Linked DNA regions of Homo sapiens: regions 1, 2 and 3 are each linked to region 4. The links come from fine-mapping of genetic effects on gene expression. A gene starts in region 4. Each other region holds a variant in brackets. All regions are shown on one strand. Distances are between the middles of the regions.

Region 1 (2,683 bases), 110 kb after region 4:
TGTTTTTTTTTAAGCAAAGAAAGCAAGCCCAAGTTTAAAACACATTGAAAAAAGGTCAGAGTGACATTTTCTACCTAATTTTAGGTCATTTGGAGGACTTAATTCCCTCTGGGCACTATGCCTGCAACAAAGGTAGCCATGACCATCTGGTTTGTGATGTAGTTGAACCAGCAAGGCTCGCTAAACTAGACCTTAGCCTGCAGAGCATTTATCCAACGGGCCGGGCAATATTGCTTTTAGCTGTAAGAAGAACTCTTAATTCACCTAACACAATGAGAAAGAAAACCAGTCTCCTCTCATCATTAAACTGATTGAGATGATGCCTTGACTGCAGGGGCAGGAAGAACGCAGTCCAGAGGACTGCACAGGAGCAACTGGGGGTTTGCAGGAGGCTGCAGAGCAGGTGTCGTAAAAGAGCAAGCAAGTGAAAAAGAAGAAATCCCAGAGGGTTATTCTATGCAAGGCTAGTACACAGCATACTTCAAATACCAGAGAGAGAAAAGGGATTATGTCTGGATTTAAAAATTCCTACTTTGGATCCATGTCGCATTTCAACCACATTCACTGAGGGCTCACTGTGCCTAAAGTCAGTTTACATAAATTATGTTCTAAAACAAGTTTCGGAGAGCATGAATTCACTTTCTCTTGCACCTTGTACCCAATCCAATGGGATCAGGACAGCATGCATTTTGAAATGCTCCCCTTTCACACAGATGGGGCCAGCAGTTTTCCACCAAATATACTTAACAGCCTACAGAAAGATACCTCTCCACTCCCTGCCAAATGAATGCTCTTTGACAGTCTTCTCCCACTTGGTATCAAACTTACCCACCTGCTGCACAACGACCCTTGCTCTGTTTTCTGACGCAACAGAAAACTCAACTTCTAACTTCCGGCTGGCCTTCCCTCCTCCCTCCGTCTCTCCCTTTCCCTGTCCTTGTCCTTTTCAGGCTGTGTATGTCCTCTGCTCATTGGCTCTGCAGAAAAGGAGACCTCATCAGCTAAAGTGATCAGACCTTATAAAAATGAACAAGAGCCTACCCAAAAAACCTGTAAATAAATAT[C/T]GCAACTTTTTATTATTTAAAAAATGTTTGGCCGGGCGCAGTGGCTCGGGCCTGTAATCCCAGCACTTTGGGAGGCTGAGGCGGGTGGATCACCTGAGGTCAGGTATTCGAGACTAGCCTGGCTAACATGGCAAAACCCCCTTTCTACTAGAAGTACAAAAATTAGCTGGGCGTGGTGGCATGTGCCTGTAATCCCAGCTACTCAGGAGGCTGAGGCAGGAGAATCGCTTGAACCTGGGAGGTGGAGGTTGCAGTGAGCTGAGATTGCGCCACTGCATTCCAGCCTCAGCGACAAGAGCGAGACTCCATCTCCAAAAAAAAAAAAAATGCTCACCATTTTTTCCCTTTCTTTCTTGCAATTTTTCCACAGTTATGAAATTGGATGTGCCACACAACATGCTCTTCAGCCGGTCAGAAAACGAAAATATTTTTTCAAGGCCTGGCTGACTGTTGTGTCATCGTCTACATGCACTTGTGGGCACACAGCTGAATGGGAGGCAAAGAGATGCAAAAAGTGAGCTGAGTGGCAGGAGGACTAATTCCTGTCCTCTCTTTATTGCCATGGGATTTGCTTTCAATCCTCACTCTTCAGGTACAACTATTTCCATTCTCACTGGGTTTTCCAGTGTGAGTACCTTAGAAGCGCTTTTCTACCTAAAGAAAAAAAAAGTTGCAAATTCTACTCTTCTAGCTGAGGAGCCATCTGGGGGCTTGGAGGAGGCTTTAAAAAAAGTGATGAGGGCAGTCATCTCACATAAACTGGAAATCTGAGGTCATCCTCTGGTGGGAATTCTTCAGTTAAAACTGCTCTGGGGCTGGGCGTGGTGGCTCACACCTGTAACCCCAGCACTTTGCAGGCTGAGGCAGGAGGATTACTTGACCCCAAGAGTTCAAGACCAGCCTTGGCAATATAATGAGACCCTGTCTCTACAAAAAATTAAACAAATTAGCCAGGTGCGGTGGCGTGAGCCTGTAGTCCCAGCTACTTGGGAGGCTGAGGTGAGAGGTCACTTGAGCCCTGGAGGTGTCCAGCCTGCAGTGAGCCGAGATCGTGCCATGGCACTCCAGCCTGAGTGACAGAGCAAGAACCTGTCTCAAAAAATAAAAATAATTTTTTAAAAAACTGGTCTGGCCAGGCGCGGTGGCTAATGCCTATAGTCCCAACACTTTGGAAGGCCAAGGTGGGTGGATCACCTGAGGTCAGGAGTTCAAGACTAGCCTGGCCAACATGGTGAAACCCTGTCTCTACTAAAAGTACAAAAATTAGCTGGGTATGGTGGCAGGCACCTGTAACCCCGGCTACTTGGGAGACTGAGGCTGAAGAATCGATTAAGCCTGGGAGGCGGAGGTTGCAGTGAGCTGAGATCACAACTGTTGTACCCCAGCCTGGGCAACAGGAGCGAAACTCTGTCTCAAAAGAAAATAAAATAAACTGGTCTGAAAAGGAACACATGGCTTTTGAGTATTTAGTAAATAAACCTGGCATGGCAAGAAACAACTTCTAATAAAACTATGGAATTAATAATCTTTAAAAAACAAAATGGACCCTGGTGTTTCAAACATGTCACTATCAAATACTCAAAACAGCAGATAATTACAGAACTCAACTATGTGTCCAA
Region 2 (2,683 bases), 100 kb after region 4:
CCATTTTTCTTCCTATATCCATTAATGAATGGCTAATATTGTTTTATTTGCTTTAAAAGGACTACCAAGCTCTAATCATAGGGTTTATTTCTTTTCCAGAAAGCGGATGTTGGTGCTGTTAATCAAAAGCCTTTGAATCAAGGTCATATGATTTCTAACAGATTATTTCCCTCACAACATGTCTTTGTCTCACAGCAACAAATCATATCATTAAAATCACCAAGGCATGTGGGCTAAGTGTTTGATTAGCTGTAACTTTCATTTCAGAAACGGCCACCTGTGGTAAAAAGTTATGCCAGTTTATGTGAGCAGATGAAAATGATACACCTCATCAATTTTTAAAATTAGGGTACTGACAATATAGTCCTCCATGCTGTCCTTTTATTGTTGAAAACAAAGGAAAACTGAGTATCAGTGGATCAGTAAGAAATGAGTGTTCCCTTTTGTAAGTGGAATCTGACCAGCTTTGTCTGGAATTTGACTGGTTGTATGGAAAAGGTTCCTAAATAGGCTGGACACGCCTGTAATCCTAGCACTTTGGGAGGCCTAGGTGGGTGGATCTCTTGAGCCCAGGAGTTTAAGACCAGCCTGAGCAACAAGGTGAAATCCCATCTCTACAAAAAAATACCAAAAAAAAAAAAGAAACAAGAAAAGTTGCTAAATAAAAACTATGTTTATCAAGTAAATGACCATCATTTCACTGCTAAAGTTTTAATCATTTTTTTCCAATTACTATGACGAAGGCTTGCCAATTTACTTGGGTACTATACATGTAAAATAATGGCTAACATTTATTGATCACTTGCTACATGTCAAGTACTGTTCTAAGTTCCATATTGAGAATTATAGAGTTCAATTTTCCATTTTCATAAAGAAGTTTAACTCAGAATAAAAATCCAGATTCCTCACCATGGCCCATCCAGCCTTCATCTTCTAGCACACCATTCTCTCCTTGCTCACTCTGCTAGGCCCCACTGACTTGCTTTTGGTATCTTAATGACATCAAGCTCCTTGCTTCCTTAGCTCCTTGCTTCCTTGACCTTCTCATCCTTTAGGTTTCAGCTCAGATGTCTACTTAAAGAGATTCTCTGGTCAACCTGTCTATTAATGTCTGTTCCAACAACCAGTTACTTCCCTTATAGCACTTATAATTTGTCATTCTGTTTCTGACTTCTACTTCTTATCCATCTCTCCAGTAGACTGTGAATTCCATGAAAACAAGGACGGTGTATAACTATTTGCTGAATAAATTGATAAGTGGATGGACAGGTTCTGTTTCCAAATTTCATTGACTCCCTTCTTTGCTTCCCTCCCAGGC[C/CAA]AAAAAAAAAAAAATGGCTTTTCCAAGGCTTCACATTACAAAGACTCTACTCATGATTAAGGCTCACTCCTTTCCCCAGGAAGTAGAGAACAGATTTCTTTTTATTCATTCAACAAATATTTATTGAACCTCGATGGCCAGGCACTTGGTGAACAAAGATAAATAGGATACAGTTCCCTTGGGATTAGCTCAAAATAAATGGAGAGAGAAAGAGAAAATCTATGTGTCTGTGGGTGTCTGTTTTTAAACACAAACCCACACTAGTTAGTGTGTGAGAAGGGGAGACATATGAGTCGACAGCCACCTACTTGAGAATCCCTGTTCAGAAATAGCTTCCCTGCGGACTTGTCCCCAATGCCTACAGTTCCATCAAGAGAGTTAATTCTGTAGGAGAGGGAAGGTGGATGATGTGATAGACAAATGATTTGCTAGCATGGTAACTCCTCAGTTCAGAGGCAGTGTTAATCACAAAGCAAAAATGAAAATCTTGCACAATCACAAATGGGCGCCCAGGACTGTATGTTATTTGTCAATCCTGTGATCTTCTTGGCCTGAGTACACACGATCTTCATGTTACTGAGCTTTTACCATTTGGAATATGTAAACCAAATCCTAAATGAGGTTTTCCATTTATCAGTCACAACATGCAACATTTTTCTTCCTTATTAAGAATTAAAAGAGTTTATGAGAGAGAAATAAAATCTGATTTTCAAGTTGTCAAAAAAAATCGTGATATAATGCAATCAGTTTAGCCAGGAAACAAAATGGCCAATATAAACTGTTGCAGGAACTCCCACAGCTGTAAGCAGCTGTCGTTCCTGAAAGGCAACTCCTTCTTTATCATTTCTTCCATCTGGTTTATTTTTTGTGCATGCATTCTAGCATACAAATAATCCCTCCCCTTTTTTTTTTTTGGTCCACAGGTACAATTGTACACATGTACCTGTAATTTTATTCTATTCAGTCTCCTTGGTAGAGAAAGCAATAATTTTATAATAAAATGAGGGCTCTCTAGACTTAATTCTCTCTCTTTTCCCAATATATTTGCATCATGAGTTTCATTTGATTGCACAGCCATGAACTCCATGCTGGCGACCTTCAGTGGAAGGATTCGGAGGCAGCAGGAGGCCGACTTCTCCAGGGGGTGGGGTGAGGAGAAAACGTAGACTTATTCCCTTTCTTATTTCCACCTACTTTGAAAACTTTTTTTTTTTACATGAAAGGGGCGACCAATAACCATTTTTGCTTTAACTTGCAAAAAGCTTAGATATGCCATTTGCATGGTGATCATTATTTATTTATATATTCATTAATGGGTAAGGAAGTAATGCTCTTCTAAAGCTGAGTAGAGCCACGTAGCCATGG
Region 3 (2,683 bases), 110 kb after region 4:
GTTTTAAATGATTCTGGAATAAGTACTCAATGTCACTGAAAACTATTTTAATTTTAGATTAAAAATATATGCAAAGAAAAAAACACTGAAAATTGATATGTCAAAACCCTAATAAGGAATTCTATTTGGGTGGCAGAAATATGAAAACTTTTTCTTTTCTTTTTTGAACTTCTGGGCATATTTTAATTTTGGGAGTGACCAAATATTATAATGATCAGAAAAATTATCTTTTTTTTTTTTTTTTTTGAGATGGAGTCTCACTGTGTCATCGCCCAGGTGCAGTCTCGGCTCACTGTAACCTCTGCCTCCCAGGTTCAGGCAATTCTTGTGCCTCAGTCTCCCGAGTAGCTGGGATTACAGGCGCCCGCCACAACAACTGGCTAATTCTTTTTGTATTTTTAGCAGAGACAGTGTTTCACCATGTTGGCCAGGCTAGTCTCAAACTTCTGATCTCAAGTGATCCACCCACCTTGGCCTCCCAAAGTGCTGGGATTACAAAGTGGGGTGAGCCACCGTGCCTGGTGAAAACTTACCTTTAAATACAGATAACAGAATGTTAAAAAGTAGTTTATGGTATTATTCTCACAAATTACTCCTTTTAAACCTGGCAATCACTGAGAAATACAGCCTTGACCTTGCCAACATTCAGTTCTCAGTGATTCATACTTAAGGGAATCCACCACCACACCCACCCTATGACTGGGCGCTTAGAGCAGGGGTGGCATCCATGCACTCCCACTCTGTTGACTTCCCAGCATTTATACACCACGTCCCAGTTTTAGGCATCAGAGGCTCTTTCTCCCGCTCCAGCCCAAGGCCCCATTCTCCTTACACCCTCCTGCTTCCCCAGCCCCTGCCCTCATTCCTGATCTCACACTCATTCTTACCTATTTCTTCCAAGCATCTTCTAAGTTACATTTCTCTATCTCCTCTTTGTTTTTTTCTTTTTTGAGTTATGAATTACTGTGTTGCTCTCTTCACTTTAGGAAGCTTTATACTTAGTATACATGTACTAATATGTAAATTATGGTTGATTACAGCATTTGTAATTATTTCTATAATTTATTTTAAAGCTGCGCATCAGGCCTTTGGTCAGGCACTTCTTACACTCTGAACTACTTTCTGTCCAGTGTTTATTTGCTAAGAAAAATATCAGGCCTCACAGCCCTGTGTTTCATCTGTAAAGCCCTTTTGTTATTTTCCAGTGGCCTCAGCGGAGATTTAACATCAAGAATGGTAGTAGGAAAAAAAAAATGGTGATAGAACCTTTTATCTCAACCTAAGACTTATCACTTTCAGAGATGCTTCCTGCACTGATACATATTATTATTTCGGAAGTAGTTTATTGAGAGTCTAGTATGTGCCAGACACTGTGCTTAAATCCTGGGGAATTATGAATTGAAAGTACACGTTTGCATTTGCAGATGCA[T/C]AAAAACTTGCAGTCTAGAAGGAGAGGAGACACGTACATAATTAGATGCCATGCTGGTGTTAGGTGTCCCAACAGGGCCAGAGCAGGAGGGAGACAGAGGCCCTGAAGGAGAACGTGATCTGGGGAGGTTTCCAGAGGGACACTTGAGCTAAGTCTCAAAAAATGTGTATGATGGTGGTTGCATAACTCTGTAAATATACTAAAACTTATTGAATTTTTTATTTAAAATGGGTTAAGGGTAAACCTTGCAGTATGTATATTAGATCTCGATAAAGCAGTTTTTTTAAAAGGTGTATTGAAACTGGGTCAAACACACCAGAAGGGGAAGAACATCCCCAAGAGAGAGAAGAGCCTGGCAAACGCATGGAGATGTGAACCATCGCGACAAGTAGGGGGACTGCCAGTCTTAGAGTGGCTGGAATGTAGGGTAGCTGTGGATGGCTCAAGTGTCCAAAAGGATTTAAGCAGCAAAATCACAGAAACAACTTCATTTTCATGTAATGGCCCGAATCCCAGAGTCTCAATGACATTCTGGGCACCTTCTGGTTTTTTGTTTTGTTTTGCTTTGTTTTTGACTAAAAGCCCTTTCTCTGCCAAGTCTAAGATGGGGAAGAAAGATGACGAGAAGGAAGAACCCATATGCCCAAAGATTAGAACAAAAAATACATTTTCTAGAAATCATTTTGGTCATCTCTCTGCTTCTAGGCAGGTTTGTTAAACTAACCCAGACAGAGGAACCCATTTTGTCCTTAAAGGTCCCTAGAGAAGGAGACTCCAAGTGGGACAGGCTTTAGGCTAAGAAAAAGCATTCTCTGCAGGCCCTTTGCAAATCCAGCCACACATGGAAAGCCCCTAAGAGAAGCAGAATGCCCTCCCTGCATTCTGACCTGTTCATGCCAGCCTAGTGACACGAAGCATTGATGTGAGGCCCTTGTTTCTTCAGTCACCCAGCCCAGAATGCCCAGAGGAGGTAAAGATCACTTACATGGCACCTGGTGATCGGGACTTCCAGGACAATGGTAATGATAGTTCCATGGAGCATGTGGGGAAAGATTGGGAGGCAGCATCTGTGCACATGCTGGATACCTCTGAGGTTCAAACTGAGGGAACTCCCTGGACCTGAGAGGTCTGGGGAGGTCCTGGGGGTAACACACGGAGGTGAGGGGCAGGGGCCTTTCCAGCTGCCTGATGCCCAGGACATCCTGGGGCTGGGAATCATATCCCGTGTCTATGGTTGGCAGATCCAGGCCTGCT
Region 4 (2,683 bases):
ATTTCCTAGAACTCCATTATTTCATGGAAGCAGTTCAAAGCATGCAAAAAAGCAAAACCATTTTAAAACACCTAGTAAACTGGGCCTCTATCTTTTTTATATTATCATAAGCCCCAGGAGTTTTTGAGAACGTACCTTCTGTCACGGCTGTCTCCCCTTCCCATCCCTTCTTCAACATAGTTGTGTTTAAAAAATATATACCTGTACTTAAAACGCAATCCTACAGCCCAGCCTAGGAGCATTTCAAAATGTCTGTGCTGCTGAGTCTGGCTGTGGTTCCTAATAAATTCACCCCATTAAGTGTGATGTTTTAGGTTGGGCAACATAAACACGCATTTCCTACTTCCATGGATGCACATTTCCTGAAAGCACTGCACCTAAGGATGCTGCCCTGTCCCCCGACGCTCAGGCACTAAACTCTAAGGAGTCACGACCTGCACTCACAGCAGAGCCACACGGTCACCCCAGTGAGAAAGATTATCTGGCCCCAAGCGCCACTCTCTCCGGCCCACTGCATCTCCGGAACTGGCAGAGGAGAGCGAGGGTGAGAAGAGACCATGGGGAGCGACTGACAACAAGGCTGACACTTCCCCGTTTCCAGAAAGCGGCACTTGGGGGACACAAGGGATGTCCCACTAGCGACCGACCTCAGAGCAGGCCCTACGAACCCGTCCACCGATGGACATGGCGCGGCCACCTGGCCCGCCGTCCGGGGCGCCCGCGGCTTTCGCTCTCCCGGCCCGCGCCCTGGAGTGCGGCTCCCGCTCCCGGCCGCCACACGCAGTCTAAACACGCGGCGCTCGCCACCTCCCTGCCCGGGGGTGGGGGCGCCGCGCAGCGCTCGCGCGGACCCACATTTTTGCGGCTCTTGTCACGCACGAGAGAAAAGGCGAGGAGGGCGGAGGGGAGGGAAGACGCGGCAGCGATCCACGGAGACGGCCGGCGCCGGTGGCGTGTGCGCGTGTGCGCGGCGGGGAGGGCGGCCCCGGCGCCCCGCCGACTCCCGCTCCCGCCCCGCGCCCGGCGCCCGCTTACCTGCCGGGGTCGCTCCGAAGACTCGCACCACCGGCACCTTCTTGACAGGGGCCTGGGTGAGGGGGGATTGGCAGGTATCCAGCCCCTGCAGCGGGCTGGCCATGTAGTAGTCTGCAGTCACTATCCTTACTGAAAACATGTTCGCCGCCGCCGCCACTGCCTCCCTTCACTGGCGACCCGGCAGCGGCAGCAGCAGCGGCGGCGGCTCCCTCCGCAGCGGCGGCGGCGCCCCCTCCCCTTCTCGGCACGGCCCCCTCCCCTCACACAGAGGCACCTCGAGGAGCGGCGGGCGGGGCGGTGTAGGCGCTGCTGCCGCCGCCTCCTCAGGAGCACCCGGCAAGGGGCCGCAGGAGAGAAGCCCTCGAGCTTTCGTCGGTGCTGGTGCTGCCGCCACTGCCGCCACCGCCGGGAATCACACGGGCTCCTCGGTCCCAGGCTGCAGCTCTTGTTGCCATGATGATGATGTCACGGACGCAACCACTGGGGGGAGGGGAGAGGGGGGTGTGTGTGGCGAAGGGAGGCTGCGAGTAGTGCGGGGGAGGGGGCTCGGCGGGAAAAGGAGCGAGAGGGCGGGCGCCCGGGCGGGACACGGAGGGCGGGGGCCGAGAAGGGGCTTTCTCCCCCTCCCCGGGCACGCGGCGAGGGAGGCGGCCGGCGGCCGGCAGCGCCCGCGCGGGATCGATGACTCGGCTGGCGGGCACGGTCACCTGGGTGAGGGGCAGCGGAAGGGGCGGCGGAGCACCGATCTCATGGATGGGCTCCGAGGGGCTTGCGGGAGGGGGGCGCCAGTGTTCGGGGCCGTTTTGGCGGCTATGCAGGATTGGCAGGAGCTGCGATGCTCACACTTGCCTCGCCGACCGCCATTTCACATCCAGCAGAGGAGGCGGGGGCAGCCGCTGAGACGGTTTTTCACAAGGTAAGAAAATCCGCCCGCGTGAGGAGGGAGGCGAGGCGCAGATCTCGTGCCGCTGCGGCCTCGCGGGAGGGAAGGGCGGGCGGGCGGCGGAACGGGCGGGGCCGGGTGCGGACGCAGCCGGCCCTTCTCAGGTAACGCCGCGGCTCCGCGCGTGGCCCGGGGGCGGTGCGAAGGGTGGGGGCGCGCGGGCGCGGGCTTCGGCCTATAAAAGGGCCGCCCTGGCGTTCCCCCTTCCCGAACGTGCCGCGCGAGCCGCGGTGCCCCCTCCTCTTTGCTGCTGCAGTGTCTGCGCCGGGCCATTTAATGAGATTTATTCACGCACGGCTCTTCTCAGCTTTGCGAGGGGTTGGCAGATCCAGTGCACAGGGATTTCCCACTACCGTGTTTTTCTCCCGCCCCCTTCCTTCCCTCTCGTCCTAATACATCCTTCGTTGGTTTCCTCGGCCCCGCAGGCTGCGTCCCGGGCACGCGCAAGTACATGTAAGGACTTGTCAGCTGCCGGTGACCTCCCTCCTCCCTCGTCGCTCCTCCCCCAGCGGAATGTAGGATTAACAGTCTTTCCGAGAAAATTTTGGCCAAAGAAAAAGGCCTGTGAAAGTCACCGCGTTAGACGTGGCCTCCTCGTGTTTTTCACTAACACGTTATGGAAGGTTTTACTACCCGAAGGCATAAAAGCACCACCGTGGGGAAGGGCCGTTTTGAATAAACAACTTTATTCAAAAATCGAGAGGG

Direction of the effects. Positions count from the first base shown, and alleles are read on the strand shown. Sizes are in standard deviations (SD) of each study's normalised expression. Not every link is listed here.
For the expression in neutrophils of the gene that starts at base 1,504 in region 4, CAA is the low allele of the variant in region 2 and C is the other (moderate effect, 0.58 SD a copy in BLUEPRINT).

The links. PIP is the estimated chance that this variant, and not a neighbour inherited with it, causes the effect. A credible set is the group of variants that fine-mapping cannot tell apart.
Region 1: its variant is the best candidate, but not a certain one, in a credible set for the expression of REV3L in subcutaneous fat (GTEx, PIP 0.54).
Region 2: its variant is the best candidate, but not a certain one, in a credible set for the expression of REV3L in neutrophils (BLUEPRINT, PIP 0.74).
Region 3: its variant is the best candidate, but not a certain one, in a credible set for the expression of REV3L in whole blood (INTERVAL, PIP 0.60).

The regions. Positions count from the first base shown.
Region 1 is chr6:111,592,756-111,595,438 of GRCh38, forward strand. The region is part of intron 1 of TRAF3IP2 (TRAF3 interacting protein 2); the gene reads right to left. It also overlaps TRAF3IP2-AS1. Among named protein-coding and RNA genes, the nearest start is that of TRAF3IP2, 12 kb to the right of the region's middle. The variant C/T (reference allele first, on the strand shown) is at 1,065.
Region 2 is chr6:111,584,016-111,586,698 of GRCh38, forward strand. The region is part of intron 2 of TRAF3IP2 (TRAF3 interacting protein 2); the gene reads right to left. It also overlaps TRAF3IP2-AS1. Among named protein-coding and RNA genes, the nearest start is that of TRAF3IP2, 21 kb to the right of the region's middle. The variant C/CAA (reference allele first, on the strand shown) is at 1,319.
Region 3 is chr6:111,588,844-111,591,526 of GRCh38, forward strand. TRAF3IP2 (TRAF3 interacting protein 2) reads right to left here. Exons shown (of 9, transcript NM_147686.4): 2 at 2,415-2,683. It also overlaps TRAF3IP2-AS1. Among named protein-coding and RNA genes, the nearest start is that of TRAF3IP2, 16 kb to the right of the region's middle. RefSeq lists an enhancer at 2,354-2,683. The variant T/C (reference allele first, on the strand shown) is at 1,430.
Region 4 is chr6:111,481,715-111,484,397 of GRCh38, forward strand. It overlaps REV3L (REV3 like, DNA directed polymerase zeta catalytic subunit), which reads right to left and starts at 1,504. Exons shown (of 32, transcript NM_001372078.1): 1 at 1,036-1,504. The coding sequence starts at 1,174. It also overlaps TRAF3IP2-AS1. RefSeq lists enhancers at 391-450, 2,291-2,650 and silencers at 821-900, 961-1,030, 1,091-1,390, 1,561-1,790, 1,831-2,220.